2 linked regions of the Homo sapiens genome follow. The gene in region 2 interacts genetically with the main gene of each other region. Each region holds a gene or a part of one and is shown on either strand. Other genes may lie near its edges.

Region 1 (3,800 bases), on a different chromosome or scaffold from region 2:
TTTCACTCAGCGTTTAGATTTCAGAATAGCAAGACAGAAAACAGACTTTTGTCTCCAGGCCTGGAAAGTGGTAATTAAGTGGATTCAGATCTGGCTTGTGAGATACTTACTTTCGAATGAAGACTGGCTTAAGGCGAGGCTCCATCTCATCTTCACTGTCTGTGTACTCTTCATACTCAGACTCTGATTCTGACTCCTCTCCAGAACGACCCTCATCTTCCACTTCCATGACTTCCATCTCTTCATTTTTTCTCTCCTGTGCTCGCTGACGCATCATGCCACGCCGCCGCTCTATTTCCTATCAAGTCATATATATAAGCCAGTCAGTCAAATGGCCTATGGCTTTTTGTTCGTCTCATCAAACACAACAAATTCAAATGTAAAAAGATACAACTTAGTATCATTCTATTTTTAATCCTATCCCCACAAACAAGGAACATGATCAGAGTCCTGCCAAAGCAGTGATCTCATGTTTTTAAGGCTTCAACAAATGAGCACTGGCATGAACTTTTTCTTATATCCAGAAAAAAACTTCCCATGTTCCTTTATCATACCTCATCATCAATTTCCTCCTCCTCTTCTTCACTGCTGTCTTCTCGTTCCATGCGCCAAGCATCTCCTTCTACTTCTGAGTCACTCTCTCCTACCACTTCAGGTTCCACTATTTTTCGATGTCGAGCCAATCTGAAAAACAGTATCTCCAAATGTAACACCAATGTCATAAAAATGAAGTAGCATCAACTGCATTTCCATAGCCACAGAGCACATTATGTTTGCCTTCATTAATACTGAAGTTTTTTTTTTTTTGAGGCAGGGTCTTGCTCTGTCGCCCAGGCTGCAGTGCAGTGGTGCGATCTTGGCTCACTGCCACCTCTGCCTCCCAGACTCAAGTGATCCTCCCACCTCAGCCTCCTGAGTAGCTGGGACTATAGGCGTGCCACCACACCTGGCTAATATTTGTATTTTTTGTAGAGACGGGGTTTTACCATGTTGCCCAGGCTGGTCTTGAACTCCTGGACTTAGGCAATCTGCCCACCTCAGCCTCTCAAAGTGCTGGGATTATAGGTGTGAGCCACCATGTCCATCCAGTATTAAAGTATTGAGGTGGAGGAAACTGAGGTGCAGATTAAAGAAACTAAACTAGGATGTCAGAGCGAATAGTCAAGTTGGGCCTGAAATACTAAATGTATGTTGAGGCATCCTGGGGCACCACAGCAAGCCAGCAAACTCATAGGGATGCATTGGGATTTTTTTTTTTTTGAGACAGAATCTCACTCTGTCACCCAGGCTGAAGTGCAAGGGCATGATCTTGGCTCACCACAACCTCCACCTCCCAGGTTCAAGTGATAATCCCTGCCTCAGCCTCCCGAGTAGCTGGGATTACAGGCATGCACCACCACACCCAGCTAATTTTTTTATTTTTAGTAGAGATGGAGTTTCGCCATATTGGCCAGGCTAGTCTTGAACTCCTGACCTCAGGTGATCCGCCTGCCTAGGCCTCCCAAAGTGCTGGGATTACAGGCATGAGTCACTGAGCCTGGCCTGCATTGGAATATTTTTAATAGCTCAAGATAATTCACTTTCAACATTAAGTCACACTACATTCCTTTCGAGAATATCGTGTCTTTGTGAAACTGGGTTTTGGTGGCTGCTGTGATAAAAAGTAAAAGAAAGTATAGTATGAAAATCAATATAAAACAAGACATGAAAAAGTGACAGTGCTGATTCCAAGGTTTGAAAGGCTGTCAGTGTCCAACAGGCAAACAAATTCCACTAGTAACTATGGTTATGTGAGAATGAATAAAAGTGTTTTTTCCCCCCTGGGCACTGTAATTTTATTTTTTTTTCTTTTTTCTTTTCTTTTTTTTTTTTTGAGATGGAGTCTCGCTTTGTCACCCAGGCTGGAGTGCAGTGGCGTGATCTCGGCTCACTGCAATCTCTGCCTGCCAGGTTCAAGCAATTCTCTGCCTCAGCCTCCCAAGTAGCTGGGATTACAGGTGCCCGCCACCAGGCCTGGCTAATTTTTTTGTATTTTTAGTAGAGATGGGGTTTTACCAAGTTGGCCAGGCTGGTCTTGAACTCCTGACCTCGTGATCCACCCGCCTCAGCCTCCCAAAGTGCTAGGATTACAGGCGTGAGCCACCGCACCTGGCCATGGGCACTGTTAATCTTCAAGTGGCAAAGTTATTAGGACATAAATACTTATTAAGTTACTTGGCTCTAACTACTTAATAACTAAAATAAACAGAACTGTTTTGGCCCAGGAGCTCTGTGAAAAAACTCCTGGGACAATTATGAACGGTGAAAGTTCAGGACTCCTGGCCTACTCTATAAAGTAATGTCTCCATCAATATATAACATACAAAATCCCTCACTGGGAGGCTCTCTTTCTACCATGAGACCTTTATAAGGTCTTTTCTCCTACTTCAGTGTCATTTCCCCTTATTAGCATTTAGAATAAGTAGATGTATAAAATCAATTTACCAAAGTTTATAAAACATCTTTGTGCTAAAAAGACTCCTCTCAACAGCCAACAAATGGTCTGTGTTTTCTATTCCCATAAGGAGTTGAGTAGGTCCTTTAGGCCAGAAGTAACCTGCTGTTTCCTGAAGCTGCCACTTTGTAGCTTTGGTCATGTAACTTTCTTAGCCCCTTTGTGCTCTTAGTTTCCTCCTTTTGTGAAATGGGGATAATAGCACCTATTTCATAAAGTTATTGTATGGATTACAAGAATTAGCAAATGTAATCTACTTGGTAGTACTATTCAAGTATTAGCTATTATTATTATTATTAAGCTGTAGAGGTTCATGTTCAAGTAAACACAATCACAGACATTACCTCTCTTCCACATCTTCACTAATACGGTTCTGTAAACGCCGTAGCCGGGGGTCACTGGATGAATCCTCCTCCTGTTCCTCAGGCTCTGCTTCTTGTTCTTTGGCTTTCTTAATGAACTGAAATTCTTCATCCTCCTCATCTGAGGACTCCATAGGGGCATAGTCTGGCCTTTTTCCGGACACATAACGCTTTACCTTCACTTTTTCCATTGAAATCTCACCTGGGCGAGAAAGGTAACTTATGTTTCAGTAGCCTCTTTCTCAATGTGCTTCAACCCATCACGGCCTTTGCAAATAGAGCCCTTTATTCATAGTAGACAAGAGTCTAAGCAGAAGAAGAAGAGAGCCACTACCCAACCATCTACTCTTCTAATGGTGTTTTCCTACAAAGGCCAAGTCATGAGACTGCATCCTTGTGAAAGCCAACACTGATGATAATGAGGCTTACCTTGAGTACAATGAAGTAGAGGAAGGTAGGCAGTGAAACAGTAGAAAAAAGTCCCCCCCCAAAAAGGCAGACTGCATCCATCACAAATTCATGGTATCCCACCTCAACTATACCCTTAAACAAATTATTTGTAACAGTGCCCAGCACATAGTAAGGGTAATTTCTGCAGGAACATAAAACTGCTCAGGCATTCTTGTAGTTCCCTCTGGAATTTCCATGGCAGCCTTTATAACATACTGCCACATGACTCAATATTCTAATCTTACCTATTTCTACCTTCTTTTCCTTTACCTTATGTGTTATCAAACATGCAAGAGTATGTAATCTCTTACAAATACAATTCTTTTTTTTTTTTTTTTTTTGAGACGGAGTCTCGCTCTGTCGCCCAGGCTGGAGTGCAGTGGCGTGGTCTCGGCTCACTGCAACCTCCGCCTCCCGGGTTCAAGTGATTCTTCTGCCTCAGCTTCCTGAGTAGCTGGGACTACAGACGCATGCCACCATGCCCAGCTAATTTT
Region 2 (4,100 bases):
GAGGTTAGTTTGTTTTCTTGAATTTTAGGTTCTCTATTCTCATGAAAAGGTGAAAATGGAAGGCACTATTTCTCAACAAACCAAACTCATTGATTTTCTGCAAGCCAAAATGGACCAACCTGCTAAAAAGAAAAAGGTGAGTCAAAGTGTTTGAAAAGTGGGAATTGTCAGTTTCACTCATCATTCATGGCTCAGTGGACACCACTGTGATATATGATCATAGGAACATAGAAGAAAACAAAGTATACTTTTTTTGTTGTTTTATTTTGGGTTGAAAAATAGATTTTGAGATAATTATAATAGGTCTTACTGAAAGATATCAGTGATCAAGTCTAACAAACTACTTTTTGTTTATGACCATTCAAATCATAGTATCTTTGTTAAAGAAGTAATCCCTCCCCAGCCCACACACATAGCAGTTGGGGCAGAGGGATGTATGCAGAGAGAAAGATTTATACCAAGTCATGCATACATGACTCTAGAGGGAGTTAGCAAGTCACAAGTATGGGGCTTCAGCAGTTCAGGTCTCTCGTACCACACTCCAGAAAGGACTTTAACAGTGATCTAGTCCAGTCCTTTTGATCGGCTCACAAAGAGACTAGAACTCAGGGAGCTGGGGTGACCTGCCTGAAGTGTCTGACTGGACACTTCTCCCCTCTGCCAAGTACTGAACAACCCTTTTAGATTGCAGGAGACAAATTACAAACTAGGGGCAGGGTTATACATAGTGCACATGAGAAGATTGTTTTTCATAAGCCTGATCTATACATGCTTTCCCAAACCACTAAAGCCTTCATACTAGGTTTGGCCAGGTGTTCTCAGTTCCAGAAAAGTCTTGAAGAAGCTTGCAGTTTCCTTCCAAATGCAGAAGCATACCATAGCAGCAGTGGCAGTGGTTTTGCAGGAGAGGCCTTGATGACTTGGAATACCTAGGAGGAAGGAGTGGAGGGCTGAAGTTGACAGTTGTCTCAATATTTCCGGTGCCATCTTCGCTGTAAGGGCATGAGCACAACATTCAGAGGCCGCCTCCCACTAGACGTTGGCTGCACGGGAAGGATTTTCTTGCATGCTGCGTGACTGTATATGGTTGTTATGCTTATGATATTTAATCTTTTTTATTTTAGCAGTGAACTGTTACCTGGTTATGTCACTTGATTTAGTTAGGGTGTTTCCATTTGTTATTTTTTTTAGTTACCTTTTTTTTAAGTTGCATTATTCTGTTTTCCTTTTTTTTCCATGTATAGTAAATATTTTCATTTGCATTTTTTTTTGAGTAAGCCCCTTGTTTTGACCTCATTTTAGCATTCCTTTTAAAATTTTGCTTCCTTTTACAAAACACTCATCTCTGTGTCTTGTAACTGAGCATCATGAGACATATTCCAAGGCAAGAGTGACCTCTGAACCATCTCTCCTGACTCCATACTCCATACTCTCCTGATTCCATTTTTTGAATGGGAAAGACTCAGGACATGACTCTCCTGTCTTGGCAATGCTAGAGGAAGAGGTGGTGGCCATTCAAGCATCTTTAATCCTCTTGGTGAAAACTTCCGCACCCCTATTTTTTTCAGCCGGCTGGAACGGGCTGTGGCTCAGCCTACCCTTCCCCCCCTTCACATGCCATTTTTACTAAATACACTTACAGTGAGTATGCTCCTGGCTTTTGTGGTTTGCTCCTCCCGAGTCAGATTTCCTTTAGCTAGTTTCAAGTGCCAGTTTCCAGGAGTTAGGAGATATCTCTGTTTCCATTGCTAGGGTTTATTTAGTCGACGGAAAGAGGACCCTGCTTTACCCACACAGGTTCCTCTGCAGTACAATGAGCTGAAGCTGGCCCTGGAGAAGGAGAAAGCTCGCTGTGCAGAGCTAGAGGAAGCCCTTCAGAAGACCCGCATCGAGCTCCGGTCCGCCCGGGAGGAAGGTAGGGGCTCACTCTCTCCAAAATGCTCAAGGATGTGGAAAAGGCAGAGGATTGATCTCAGTGAGATCAGCCAAGACTAACTAGCTCAGTGTCTTCGTTTATGGCCCATACGCTTTCAGACCAGACATCCCATGTCTGAAAAACGTATGGCCCCTGTGCATTGCCAAGTTGATGTGACGCATATTCTTTTGGTCTTGGGTCCTTGAAAGATAGCCCAGGGACATTCGGCTTAGTTTGGTCCTCTAGGCGACCCAGCTAACCAAAAGGCATTGTCCTGGTCTCTCTGCAGCTGCCCACCGCAAAGCAACGGACCACCCACACCCATCCACGCCAGCCACCGCGAGGCAGCAGATCGCCATGTCCGCCATCGTGCGGTCGCCAGAGCACCAGCCCAGTGCCATGAGCCTGCTGGCCCCGCCATCCAGCCGCAGAAAGGAGTCTTCAACTCCAGAGGGTACGTTGGAGTTGTATGGAAATTTCTTTTAGTCGACTAAGACATGTGGGCATATGGTAAAAATTACAAGTAATACTAGGGGTTAAAGATTAAAAAGTCAGTCTTGGCCAGGCACGGTGGCTCACACCTGTAACCCCAGCACTTTGGGAGGCCGAGGTGGGCGGATCACCTGAAGTTGGGAGCTCAAGACCAGCCTGACCAACATGGAGAAACCCCGTCTCTACTAAAAATGCAAAATTAGCTGGGCATGGTAGTGTATGCCTGTAATCCTAGCTACTCGGGAGGCTGAGGCAGGAGAATTGCTTGAATCCGGGAGGCGGAGGTTGCGGTAGCCGAGATTGCGCCATTGCACTCCAGCCTGGGCAACAAGAGGGAAACTCCATCTCAAAAAAAAAAAAAAAAAAAAGAAAGAAGTCAGTCTCCTGGCTCCCCATCCTCAGTGTTGGTTCATATATGTGACCACATGTCTATACCATTCATGTATCTTACATTGTGTGATTATATTTAAAGAATATGAGAAAATAGGCTGGGCATGGTGGCTCACGCCAGTAATCCCAGCACTTTGGGATGCTGAGGCAGGCGGATCACCTGAGGTCAGGAGTTTGAGACCAGCCTGGCCAACATGGTGAAACCTCGTTTCTACTAAAAATACAAAAATTAGCTGGGTGTGGTAGCATTCTCCTGAAGTCCCAGCTACTTGGGAGGCTAAGGCAGTAGAATCATTTGAACCCAGGAGGTGGAGGTTGCAGTGAGCCGAGATCACCCCACTGCACTCCAGCCTGGGTGATAAAGTGAGATTCCATCTCAAAAAAAAAAAAAAAAAAAGAAAAGAAAAGAAAAAAGAATATGAAAAAATAAGCACATCTCTCTCTCAGGCCTTTTTTCTTTTATAAATATTATAGTGGTGGCTCACGCCTGTAATCCCAGCACTTTGGGAGGCTGAGGTGGGCGGATCACCTGAGGTTGGGAGTTCGAGACTAGCCTGACCAACATGGAGAAACCCTGTCTCTACTAAAAATACAAAATTAGCCGGGTGTGGTGGTGCATGCCTGTAATCCCAGTTACCTGGGAGGCTGAGGCAGGAGAACTGTTTGAACCTGGGAGGCAGAGGTTGCAGTGAGCCAAGATAAAGCCATTGCATTCCAGTCTGGGCAACAAGACTGAAACTCTGTCTCAAAAACAAAAACAAGAAAACGTAAGCTTATCTTTCAGGCCTTTTTTCTCTTATAAATATCATAGCACACTACAGTATACACTGCAAGACACCTTCGTTTCATTAAAGTGCTATCTTAGAGGTTTCACATTAGTACATAAGGACCTACCCCATTCTTTCAGAGAACCACACAGTATTCCGTGGTGTGAGCATGCAATTCACCTGTTAAGCCAGGCTCCTGTTGATGGCCATTTAGGTTGTTTCCAATCCCCTGTTACTGTAAACACCTTGCAGAGGACATCCTGTGCCTCTGTGGGTGTTGTGCCTGGAGAAATTCCTGGGAAATGAATCACTGGGTTAAAGGTCATGTACATTTTGAGTGCTGGTAGTTTGTGCCAATGTTTATTTCTACCAACAGTGTGAGGAGTTTTCTTGCTGGTCTCAAATGTACTCCATTTACCTAGAGATTAAAAGGACTTAAGAAAAGGCCAAGGAAGCTGTTTGGAATGTCTTAGGAACACTAGGGTAGAGCTGTGGTTTAGCAATCATGGCATTGCAATCAAACCTGTTTTGGTTGT

Evidence for each region. A genetic interaction does not mean that the proteins touch.
Region 1: changes in CIT (region 2) and MFAP1 together harm fitness more than expected from each alone (negative genetic interaction), as found in Homo sapiens cells (one large-scale study listed by BioGRID).

The regions. Positions count from the first base shown.
Region 1 is NC_000015.10:43,814,391-43,818,190, forward strand, and holds part of MFAP1 (microfibrillar-associated protein 1), read right to left. Parts: intron 3,059-3,800; coding exon 2,839-3,058; intron 685-2,838; coding exon 555-684; intron 299-554; coding exon 111-298; intron 1-110. UniProt on the Homo sapiens protein: Involved in pre-mRNA splicing as a component of the spliceosome.
Region 2 is NC_000012.12:119,716,514-119,720,613, reverse strand, and holds part of CIT (citron Rho-interacting kinase), read left to right. Parts: intron 1-28; coding exon 29-136; intron 137-1,752; coding exon 1,753-1,915; intron 1,916-2,204; coding exon 2,205-2,369; intron 2,370-4,100. UniProt on the Homo sapiens protein: Plays a role in cytokinesis. Required for KIF14 localization to the central spindle and midbody. Putative RHO/RAC effector that binds to the GTP-bound forms of RHO and RAC1. It probably binds p21 with a tighter specificity in vivo.